2 separate regions of the Homo sapiens genome follow, and region 1 is linked to region 2. The links come from fine-mapping of genetic effects on gene expression. A gene starts in region 2. The other region holds a variant in brackets. All regions are shown on one strand. Distances are between the middles of the regions.

Region 1 (5,371 bases), 48 kb after region 2:
CAGGTGTGGTGGTGTGTGCCTGTACTCCCAGCACTTTAGGAGGCCAGGGTGGGTGGATTGCTTGAGCCCAGGAGTTTGAGACCAGCCTGGGGAGCATAGGGAGACCCCGTCGCTACAAAAAGTATAAAACTCAGCCAGGTGTGGTGGTGCAAGCCTGTAGTCCCAGCTATTTGGGAGGCTAAGGTGGTAGGATCGCTTGAGCCTGGGAGGTGGAGGCTGCAGTGAGTTGAAATTGTACCACTATACTCCAGCTTGGGTGACAGAGTGAGAGACTGTCTCAAAAAATAAAAAAGAGGGGATGTGATTTCAGAGCCATCCATCCACTATTCCTGTGTAATCTGATTCTCTTTACAATGGTAAAATTGTTAAGAGTCTCACACTCTTTAGTAAAGAACTGTGATAGCTGGGTGTGGTGGGTCATGCCTGTAATCCCAGCACTTTGGGAGGCCAAGGCAGGAAGATTGCTTGAGCCCAGGAGTTCAAGACCAGCCTGGGCAACATAGTGAGGCCCTGTGTCTTTAAAAAACAAACAAACAAACAAAAAACTATAATAAAGGATTTTTGCATCTCATTTCATAGGTTACTATGACATCCGATTTCATAGGTTAAAAAAACCACCGCGCAGAACCGCATCGTTTTCTCTGCATTGTTCTGAATGACCGTGGCTGCTGCCTTTTTCTTTGAGCCTCTCTGTCCACTAACACACTCCCCACACACTAGCGTGCTGCCCACGCAGAGCCCACTTTGGCTCTCTCCACATCTTTAGTTTTTCCATCCTCACTAATTTACATCACTATTTTATTTTTTTTTTAATTAAACAGGAAAGAGCCAGACTTCTCAGAGGTCAGTCTGTTCAACAAGTGGGACCCCAGGGCCTTCTGTATGTTCAGCAAAGAGAGCTTGCAGTGACCTCCCCAAAGGATGGTAGGTTAGGAAGCAGTGAATTGGGCGTTATCCCAAAAGGCTATTGGATATTTTATTTTATTTCTTTTTTAAACAGGCTCCATCTCCATTCTGGGTTCTGATGATGCCACTACTTGTCACATTGTGGTCCTGAGGCACACAGGTATGATGAGAGAGGTGAAGGAAACCATTACTTAAACTGACCCAACCTTTGGGACCATTGAATTTCTCGTGTTGAGTTTCCTGGTGTCTTGTTGGAAGCGGACTCCGCTTACCTTTTTTCTGGTCTGCATGGTGTCTCCCTGGTGTCCTGGTCAGAATGGGTTGGCTGGGGAGCACAGACCTGTCCGTTTTTCCCCTACAGGATATTCAAAGATGAGGCGGTCCGGAGGGACAGGCGGAGTCTCGGCCTGCGCACTGCACTCGCATCAGGGAATAACTTGAGTCCTTTCACCCTTGTTCTTCAGGTAATGGGGCCACCTGCTTGACACATTGTGACGGAACCGACACCAAAGCTGAGGTCCCCTTGATCATGAACTCCATAAAATCCTTTTCTGACCACGCTCAATGTGGAAGGTGAGATCTACGCTGCTCTCATAGGTGAATTGAGATCTTGGAACCGTCGCATACAGGACGTGGCTGTGGAAGCTGTTAGGGGAACACAGGATGCCACCACTGCCGTGTCTGCCTCGTTCCCCTGGAACAGAACCTGGCACGACGTGGGCACTGCGTCAGCAGTGGTTGAGTGAATGAGTGGGTGCTGGGCACAGGCAAGGAGTCTGTGCTGGATTTGAGATGGAAGGCTTGACTTTGAACTTGATGTCGTCTCAGGAACGTCGAGGTTGCGATTTTCACATCGTTTTGCTCTCCCCCGGGTGTGGTAGCTCTCCATGCAGTCATTCCTCCCGCAGTTGCTTGTTAAATGCTTCCTCTCACCTACACCTTGTAGTTTCTAGGGACACAGCAGTGAAGAGTAGACAGAAAGCCCGGCCCAAGGTGTTTGTATTCCGAAGCCGAGAGACTGTACACAAGATGGGGTGTTGGGTGGTGAGGCGGGGCTGTGGAGAAAACGAGGCCAGGAAGATGTGGGGACCGCTAGGGGGCGAGGCATGTAGTTTTTTTTCTTGTTCTCTTTTTGTTGTTGAGATAGGGTCTTGCTGTGTCGCCCTGTCTGGAGCACAGTTGTGTGATCTCAGCTTACTGCAGCCTTGACTTTGTGGACTCAGGTGATTCTCCGACCTCAGCCTCCCAAGTAGCTGGGACCACAGGTGTACACCACCATACCCAGCTAGCTTTTTTTTTTTTTTTTTTTTTTTTTTTGGTAGAGACAGGGTTTTGCCAAGTTGCCCAGGCCGGTCTTAAACTCTTGGGCTCAAGTGATCCTCCCAGCTGAGGGGTATAGTTTTAAATTCCAGCAGATTGGTAGTTTCCCCAAGGATTGCTGGATAAGAAGCGGCCTCTAGCCTGGGTGCCCCCACAGCACCTCATCCTCTCTCACTGCAGTAAAGTAGCCGCTGCCTCCATTTGACAGAGACGGGCAACTGAGGCTCGATGTGCTGGAGCACACAGGAGCTAGGTGGAGGCCGACGACACAGGCCTGCTGTCAAGACCACTGTTCACACACCTGTCCCCTCTCCTTGCTCTTTGTGGAGACCTGGCAGGTGTTGCTCTCATTTTACTGGAAGTCTAAGGCAGCCATTGAGTGAACTACTCCCATCATATACGAAGGCTTAATCCTAGGAGTCTAAAAAGGAAAGAGAGAGTTCTCTGGGAGAGATTTGCTAGTCAATACTGGTCGATTCTAAATTCTCCCTCTGTGGTCTGTGCCAAGGCTGGGCTGGCTTCATGGACACGTGACCCATGCAGGCCCAAAATGGTATTTTCATTTTCCTATCATCTTGGCCCCCGCAGGGGGACGTAATCAATGCCATTATGTTGCCACACACTCTGCTCCGTGGTTCTCAGAACGTGCTTGTCAGCTCTTCCTGATCTGTTGTAGAACTGTGATCGCTCAGGGAGTCAGAGGCAAACCTGGTGGCCCAGTGGCAA[A/GCAAA]GCCATGGTGGTCGCAGCTCTCCTTACTGCTACTACTTGGAGTTTATTATGAGGCCCCTTGAGGCTGTGCCCTATGTTGGGTACATCCAAGCTTCTGGTTCATCCCTTAGGAAGATTTTGTGTCTGAGAAGGCAGCGTAAAGTCTGGCAACACTTTGCCGAGCGTGAATTCGCCCACTTGACGGGCTGTGGAAAAGGGGGTTAGTAGATGAGTGTGGGAAACACTGGGTTCAAGAAAGTTAGTTGGATTTTTCAGTCGCAGGACTTCTCAAGAGCTTCACTGTGCAATGCGCAGTGTGACTCCTAAGGAGGGCTTCCAGCAGGCAGTTGCCCAGTCTTTTTGTTTTGTTTTGTTTTTGTTTTAGAGCCGGGGTTTCACCCTGTCACCCAGGCTAGTCTCAAACTTCTGGGCTGAAGCATTCCTTCCACCTCTGCCTCCCGCGTAGCTGGGAATAGAGGTATATGCCAGCACACCTGGCCTCAAACCTTTTTTTTTTTTTTTTGAGACAGAGTCTGGCTCTGTCACCCAGGCTGGCATGCAGTGATGCAATCTTGGCTCACTGCAACCTCTGCCTCCTGGGTCCAAGTGATTCTCCTGCCTCAGCCTCCCGAGTAGCCGGGATTACAGACGCCCACCACCACGCCCAACTTACTTATTTATTTTTTCCCCCTGAGACGGAGTCTTGCTCGATTGCCCAGAGCTGGAGTGCAGTGGCGCGATCTCAGCTCACTGCAACCTCTGCCTCCCAGGTTCAAGCAATTCTCCTGCCTCAGCTTCCCGAGTAGCTGGGATTACAGGTGTGCCACCATGCCCGGCTAATTTCTTTTCTTTTTTTTTTTTTTTTTGAGATAGAGTCTTACTCTGTAGCCCAAGCTGGAGTGCAGTGGCACGATCTTGACTCACTGCAACCTCTGCCTCCCAGGGTCAAGCAGTTCTCCTGCCTTAGCCTCCCAAGTAGCTGGGACTACAGGCACATGCCATAATGTCCAGCTAATTTTTTTTTGTATTTTAGTAGAGATGGAGTTTTACCTTGTTGCCCAGGCTGGTTGCAAACTCCTGAGCTCAAGCAATCTGCCCGCCTCAGCCTCCCAAAGTGCTGGGATTACAGGCGTGAGCCACTGCGCCCGGCCTAATTTTTGTATTTTTAGTAGAGATGGGGTTTTACCATGTTGGCCAGGCTGGTCTCAAGACTCCTAACCTCAAGTGATCCGCCCACCTCAGCCTCCCAAAGTGCTAGGATTACAGATGTGAGCCACTGCACCTGTCCTGTGCCTGTGCTCTTCCAGAGCAAAGTTCCCCACTGGTGCATGGAGGCGGCATCACATTTGTGTTCAGATACGGATCCCCTCAGTCATCAGGGCCCCTGGGCAGGGTCCCCAGAAGCTCGCCACTGGCCTTGGCAGTGTGCTGCCGATACTTTCTTTTGCGGTGGCACGAAGATGACCTGCAGCTCTGCTGTAGAGCAAGTGTTCATGGAAACTGAGAATGAAAGTTCAAAGTGAGACCAGCGCACGCACCGGTGTCTTCTTCTGGCCTCTGACCCGTCTCATCTCTTTGCCAGGCTGGAAGTACACCTTGTTGGAGGCTTCAGTGACGACAGGCAGTTGTCACAAAAACTCACTCATCAACTTCTTAGTAAGTTCATTTTTTTTTTCTTTCCCCCAAATTGGACATAAATATGTACCCATATTTGCTTGGGTTAAAAATCCCAATTGGTACAAAACCCAAGAAGGGCACACCCACTTGGAGCAGCACAGAGAAACAGACTGCCCAGCTTGGAATTTCACAGAAAGACTGAATGCGTGGAGCTCATGTGTAGGGAGGGGTAGCAGGGCTGGGGACAAGATTTTCTACTAAAACAGCAGTGAACACATTCCAAAATAGTAAGTGCTCTGAATTGTGTGAAAGCAGAGCCACCCTCCCTCCTGGCAAAAATGTCCATTTTAATCTGCAGAAAATTAAAACACTGATGATACCATTTTTTCCCTATTAGCAAATTTTTTCTTTTTTTTTCTTTTTTTGAGATGTAGTCTTGCTCTGTTGCCCAAGTTGGAGTGCAGTAGCATGATCTCGGCTCACTGCAAGCTCTGCCTCCTGGGTTCAAGCAATTCTCTTGCCTCACCCTCCTGAGTAGCTGGGATCACAGGCGTGCGCCACCACACCCACCTAATTTTTGTATTTTTGGTAGAAATGGGGTTTCACCATGTTGGCCAGGCTGGTTGTGAACTCCCGACCTGGTGATGCACCTGCCTCGGCCTCTTAAAGTGCTGGGATTACAGGTGTGAGTCACCACACCTGGCCTAAATTAGCAAATATTTTCAAAAAAGAAAGAAAGAAAACATTGTCGTGTGTTGACTAACCACCAGGCCATGAAGCAAGCTTACTCATATGATGGTACAGCCTGTCTGGGAAGCAATTT
Region 2 (5,371 bases):
AACAAAGTGAGACCTCGTATTTACCAAAAATACAAAAAATTAGCTGGGCTTGGTGGTGTGGGTTCGGGCGGCTGAGGTGAGAGGATTGCATAAGCTGTAGGAGCCCGAGGCTGCAACGAGCCATGATCGCGCCATTGCGCTCTAACTTGGGCTAGACAATGAGATCCTGTCTCAAACCAAAACAAAACAAAACAGATAATTGTCAGATTGCTGTTTTGCTATTGTTGCTTTTTGTTTTTGCTTTGCTTTCCCTTGGAAGTGAAGAAGAGATTCTCATTTAAACAGTTATCTTGAAGTATCTTTGTGAGCTACGGTGCAATTATTTCCTCTGTCCTTGAGACACAGATGATTCCTGTCCAACATTCCCAAGGAACTCAGTAAGGACCAAATAGAGACTCAGGAAAGACAGTTACTGATTTTACACTGTTGCAAAACAGAGCTATGGTTTATGTTTAACAAACTGCTGGCGGGGCGTGGTGGCTCATGCCTGTAATCCCAGCACTTTGGGATGCCAAGGCGGGCGGATCACTTGAGGTCAAGAGTTTGAGACCAGCCTGGCCAACATGGTGAAACCCTGTCTCTACTAAAAATACAAAAATTAGCTGGGCATGGTGGCGCATGCCTGTAATCCTAGCTACTGGGGAGGCTGAGGCACAAGAATCGCTTGAACCTGGGAAGCAGAGGATGCAGTGAGCCAAGATCATGACACTGTACTCCAGCCTGGGTGACAGAGCGAGACTCTGTCTCAAAAAAAAAACAAAAAACAAAAAAACCAAATTGCTGTATTTTATGTTGTGAAATAGGGTCTTGCTGTGTTGTCCAGGCTGGAGTGCAGGGGTACAATCACAGCTCACTGCAGCCTTGACCTCCAGGGCTCAAGTGATCCTCCGTCCTCAGTTTTCAAGTAGCTGGGACTACAGGTATGCACCACCATATGTTGCCCAGGCTGGTCTTGAACTCCTGGAGAGAGATACATATAAACACACACACACACACACACACACACACACACCTTTTTTTTTTTTGAGACACAGTTTCACTCGTCACCCAGGCTGGAGTGCAATGGCACGATCTTGGCTCACTGCAACCTCTGCCTCCTGGGTTCAAACTATTCTCCTGCCTCGGCCTCCCAAGTAGCTGGGATTACAGGCACTGCCACCATGCCTGGCTAATTTTGTATTTTTAGTAGAGACAGGGTTTTGTCATGTTGGCCAGGCTGGTCTCAAACTTCTGGCCTCAGGTGATCCACTTGCCTCGGCCTCCCAAAGTGTTGGGATAACAGGCGTGAGCCACTGCGCCGGGCCCATACATATGCATTTTTAAAAACTTATTTATTTATTTCGAGACAGGGTCTCACTCTGTTGCCCAAGCAGGAGTGCAGTGGTGCTATCTCCCAGGCTCAAGCAATCCTCAGCCTCCCGAGTAGCTGGGACTACAGGTGTGTGCCACCACACCCAGATAATTTTTATTATTTTTATTTTTTAAATTTTTTGTAGAGATGGAGTTTCACCGTGTCACCCAGGCTGGATATTTTTGTATTTTTGATAGGCCTGTACAGTTTCCAAAGTTGCAACCTTTTCCCCTCCCTGAGAGTAGGGGCAGCCCCTGCTCTCCCTCTACATCCTCCACAGTCCCGAGGTTTTGGCCTCTGTTTCCTCCGTTTCCTATGCTTGGAACGCCAGTGGCTCTTTTGTTGGTCTGGCTGACTCCTGTTCCTCTTTTAAAAATTTAAGTTTGGCCGGGCGTGGTGGCTCATGCTTGTAATCCCAGCACTTTGGGAGGCCGAGGCGGGCGGATGACCTGAGGTCATGAGTTCGAGACCAGCCTGGCCAACACAGTGCAACCCCGTCTCCACTAAAAATACGAAAATTAGCCGGGTGTGGTGGCATGCGCCTGTAATCCCAGCTACTTGGGAGGCTGAGGCACGAGAATTGCTGGAACTGGGGAGGCGGAGGTTGCAGTGAGCTGAGATCACACCACTGCACTCCACCTGGGCAAAAGGGCAAGACTCGGCCTCAAAAGAAAATAAATAAATAAATAAATAAAGTCAAGGGGGTAACACCTCTTCGTAACTCTCCTGTTGTTTCTCATGCCAGCATCACCATAGCCTTGAGGCTCTGAGGTAGGTCACTTCGTCGAGCTCGTTTCCGTGAGGATAACGTTATCTTGGGTGTCTGTGAGACTGCTGCACTGAGTATAGAGCCCAGGCTCCTGGGTCAGCCGGGTTCGAATCCCCTTTCCTCCGTGAAGATCTGGGTCAGTCACAAGTGCTTCAGTTTCTTCGATTTGACTGAGGGAGGCTTTGACTCCAAAAAATTAACACTTGAGTGTACCCGGCCACAGCTTAGCACATCCAGGGTGTTTCCACCCTTTCTTCGGGATCCTCAGGGCTGGATGGAGCCGGTCCTTCCCGTCTCTCCTTATACTCACGCACTAGCGCTGGCTGGAACAAGTCCTCCAAGTAGAACGAGGAGCGGGTTTCAGCGGCGCTCTAGCCCGCCGAGAGCATACGCCCTCCCCACGCGGGGCCGCTGATTGGCTGAAGGTTGCGCTGGCACGCGCAACTTCCGGGACAGAGGCTGTGGCTGGAAGGAGCTGGGCATCCGGCCTGAGGCGCAGCGGTCGCGTTAGTTCGGCCCAATGGCGGCACCGCTGCTTCACACGCGTTTGCCGGGAGATGCGGCCGCTTCGTCCTCTGCAGTTAAGAAGCTGGGCGCGTCGAGGACTGGGTAAGATTCAGGCCGCTTCCTTCTGCGTATCTGGGACGAAAGCTCAGGACGGCGCTTAGAGGAGCGGATTGAAAGGATGTGGGACAAAGCTCATGGCGTGTGATAGGAGCACGGGGTGGAGGGTCATCTCACGTTCACAGAAATGAGCTCATTCCTCCTAACTGGGTAATAGACATGGGTGGGGCCTGGAAAAGTGACTATGTTCTCTGTTCTGGAGGCCCCCTTTCCCGACTGTGTCTCTTCGTGATTTCCCAGGCCTGGGTACTGCCTTCTGCGCCTTGACCCCTCTTCCTTCCCTCTTCTTCGTCCAAATTTGGAAGGGATTTCCCTGGGCTATGTGGGTTATCAGCCGAACGTCGTCACTCATGGCAAATTGAATATTACATCTTTTTTGTTTGGAATTTGTTTCGACACACGTATTTGTTTCGCAGTCTTTATTTTGCTCCACTTTTAAAATCCCTAACCCCCGTAGCACTCTTGGCGTTTAACTTTCAGAGTCATTAGGATGCTATGTTTTTTCATTAATTTACTACGTGTAAGTGAAGCAAACCTTGTAAAACAATTAGCGTAATATGATTCATAATAATTATCGAGCTCCTGCTTACTGTGTTAAACACTGGGGACAGTGGTTTATCCAAAGACACTAATGTCCCTGCTTTCTACAGAGCTTACAGCATAGGGGGGAAAGGCAGTACATAGGCCAATAAATAAACGAACACGATGATTTCAGTTATACAACAAGGTAATGGGGGAGGGAGAAGGGAGAGAAGGAGCTTTTGAGATTTCTCATTGGGAAGACATCTGTCATTTGAGCTTCCACTTGAATGAAGACAAAAATCTAGGCCGGGCGCGGTTGCTCACGCCTGTAATCCCAGCACTTTGGGAGGCCGAGGCGGGCGGATCATCTGAAGTCAGGAGTTGGAGACCAGCCTGGCCAACGTGCGAAACCTCGTCTCTACTGAAAATACAAAAATCAGCCGGGCATGGTGGCAGGTGCCTGTAATCCCAGCTACTCAGGAGGCTGAGGCAGGATAATTGCTTGAACCCGGGAGATGGAGGTTGCAGTTAAGCCAAGATCACACCACTGCACTCCAGCCTGGGCAGCAGAGCAAGACTCCATCTCAAAAAAAAAAATCCAGCCACGTAGAGATTTGGGAAAAGAGTATTTCCAATAGAGTGAACAGTAAGTGAAATGAAAAACAGCTTGGCTTGTTTGAAGAGCAGAAAAGACGTTATGGCTGTAGTAAAACAAGTTGTTGGAGATGAGGTGAGAGAGGTAGGCAGGGGCCAGATTAATGTAGGATCTTAAAGACCACACTGAGAGATTTGGATTTTTACTGTAAGTGCAGTGGGAAGACAGTTATTGGTTGCTGAGCAAAGGAAGGATTGTTGGTTAAGAGTGGAAGCAGGGAGACCAGTAAAGAGGCCTTAACAATAGTTCCACTGAATTATGTTGGTTCAATAAATGTTGGCTATTATAATTTTTATTATTTTCATGAACTTAATAGCTTGTTAATCTTGGTTCCACAGGATTTCAAATATGCGTGCATTAGAGAATGACTTTTTCAATTCTCCCCCAAGAAAAACTGTTCGGTTTGGTGGAACTGTGACAGAAGTCTTGCTGAAGTACAAAAAGGTAAGGGGAGATAATGTGTGAGGTTTGCTTTTGGTTAGGTCAGAATACAACTATTGCTGTTATACTAAAGACCAATAGAAATAGCAAGATTAATTAAGATACCAGTTGAAATCAAATATTTAATAATAGCATGATGCCGTCAGTGCAAAATTAGAGTAATAGTGTCCTTTTTTTCCCCCACCTTGGCCCATTTCACAGGTAATAATGAGAGAGTAATAATGTCTTTACTGAGGTTTCACCTCTTCAAATGCTTTATTTACGAAGCATCTTTTAACTTTAGCAAGTGCCAGAATTAAAAACAATTACACCATTTTATTTATTTATTTATTTGTGCTGGAGTCTTCCTCTGTCACCCAGGCTGGAGTGCAGTGGCGTGACCTCGGCTCACTGCATCCTCCACCTCCCAGGTTCAAGCAATTCTCCTGCCTCAGTCTTCCGAATAGGTGGGGTTACAGGCACACACCACCACACCTGGCTAATTTTTTTATTTTTTTAGTAGAGGCAGGGTTTCACCATGTTGGCCAGGCTGGTCTCGAACTCCTGACCTTGTGATCCACCCGCCTTGGCCTCCCAAAGTGCTGGGATTACAGACGTGAGCCACCATGCCTGGCCTACAGCATTTTATTTTTTGAGGAACTTACCTAAGCATTACTTTGGGACAGTAAACCAGTTCTCTGAGTAGGGATTTTTGTTTTTGTGGTAGTTTAGAAGCATTTCTACTGTATCTCAGCAGTAGAGGGAAAATGTTAAGTAACCATATGTTTATATGTAATATCCATTTGTATCCATATTTGAGTGAATACTTTTTTAGATCCTCCTGAATTAGATCATTATAGCTGGCTGTTTTTTTCCCTCATGCTTTTTGAGAATTCGCAGGAGTATCAACTATTATATTCAAATGTCAATACAGAAGTATAGCTAAATGTAGTTTATCATTTTCCTTTTTCCAAGCCCTCTGGCTGCACTAACATGAGTGTTTAAATTTTTGTAGTCATGATTTTATAAT

Evidence for each region. PIP is the estimated chance that this variant, and not a neighbour inherited with it, causes the effect. A credible set is the group of variants that fine-mapping cannot tell apart.
Region 1: its variant is the best candidate, but not a certain one, in a credible set for the expression of RRN3 in whole blood (TOPMed, PIP 0.87).

Annotation. Positions count from the first base shown.
Region 1 is chr16:15,043,550-15,048,920 of GRCh38, reverse strand. NTAN1 (N-terminal asparagine amidase) reads left to right here. Exons shown (of 10, transcript NM_173474.4): 2 at 822-924; 3 at 1,001-1,066; 4 at 1,371-1,479; 5 at 4,514-4,587. It also overlaps a transcript of PDXDC1 not described here. Among named protein-coding and RNA genes, the nearest start is that of NTAN1, 9.8 kb to the left of the region's middle. The variant A/GCAAA (reference allele first, on the strand shown) is at 2,953.
Region 2 is chr16:15,091,503-15,096,873 of GRCh38, reverse strand. RRN3 (RNA polymerase I transcription factor RRN3) reads left to right here and starts at 2,602. Exons shown (of 18, transcript NM_018427.5): 1 at 2,602-2,729; 2 at 4,260-4,365. The coding sequence starts at 2,641. It overlaps LOC100505915 (a long non-coding RNA gene), which reads right to left and starts at 2,463. Exons shown (of 4, transcript NR_125434.1): 1 at 2,063-2,463. It also overlaps a transcript of PDXDC1 not described here. RefSeq lists an enhancer at 2,328-2,622.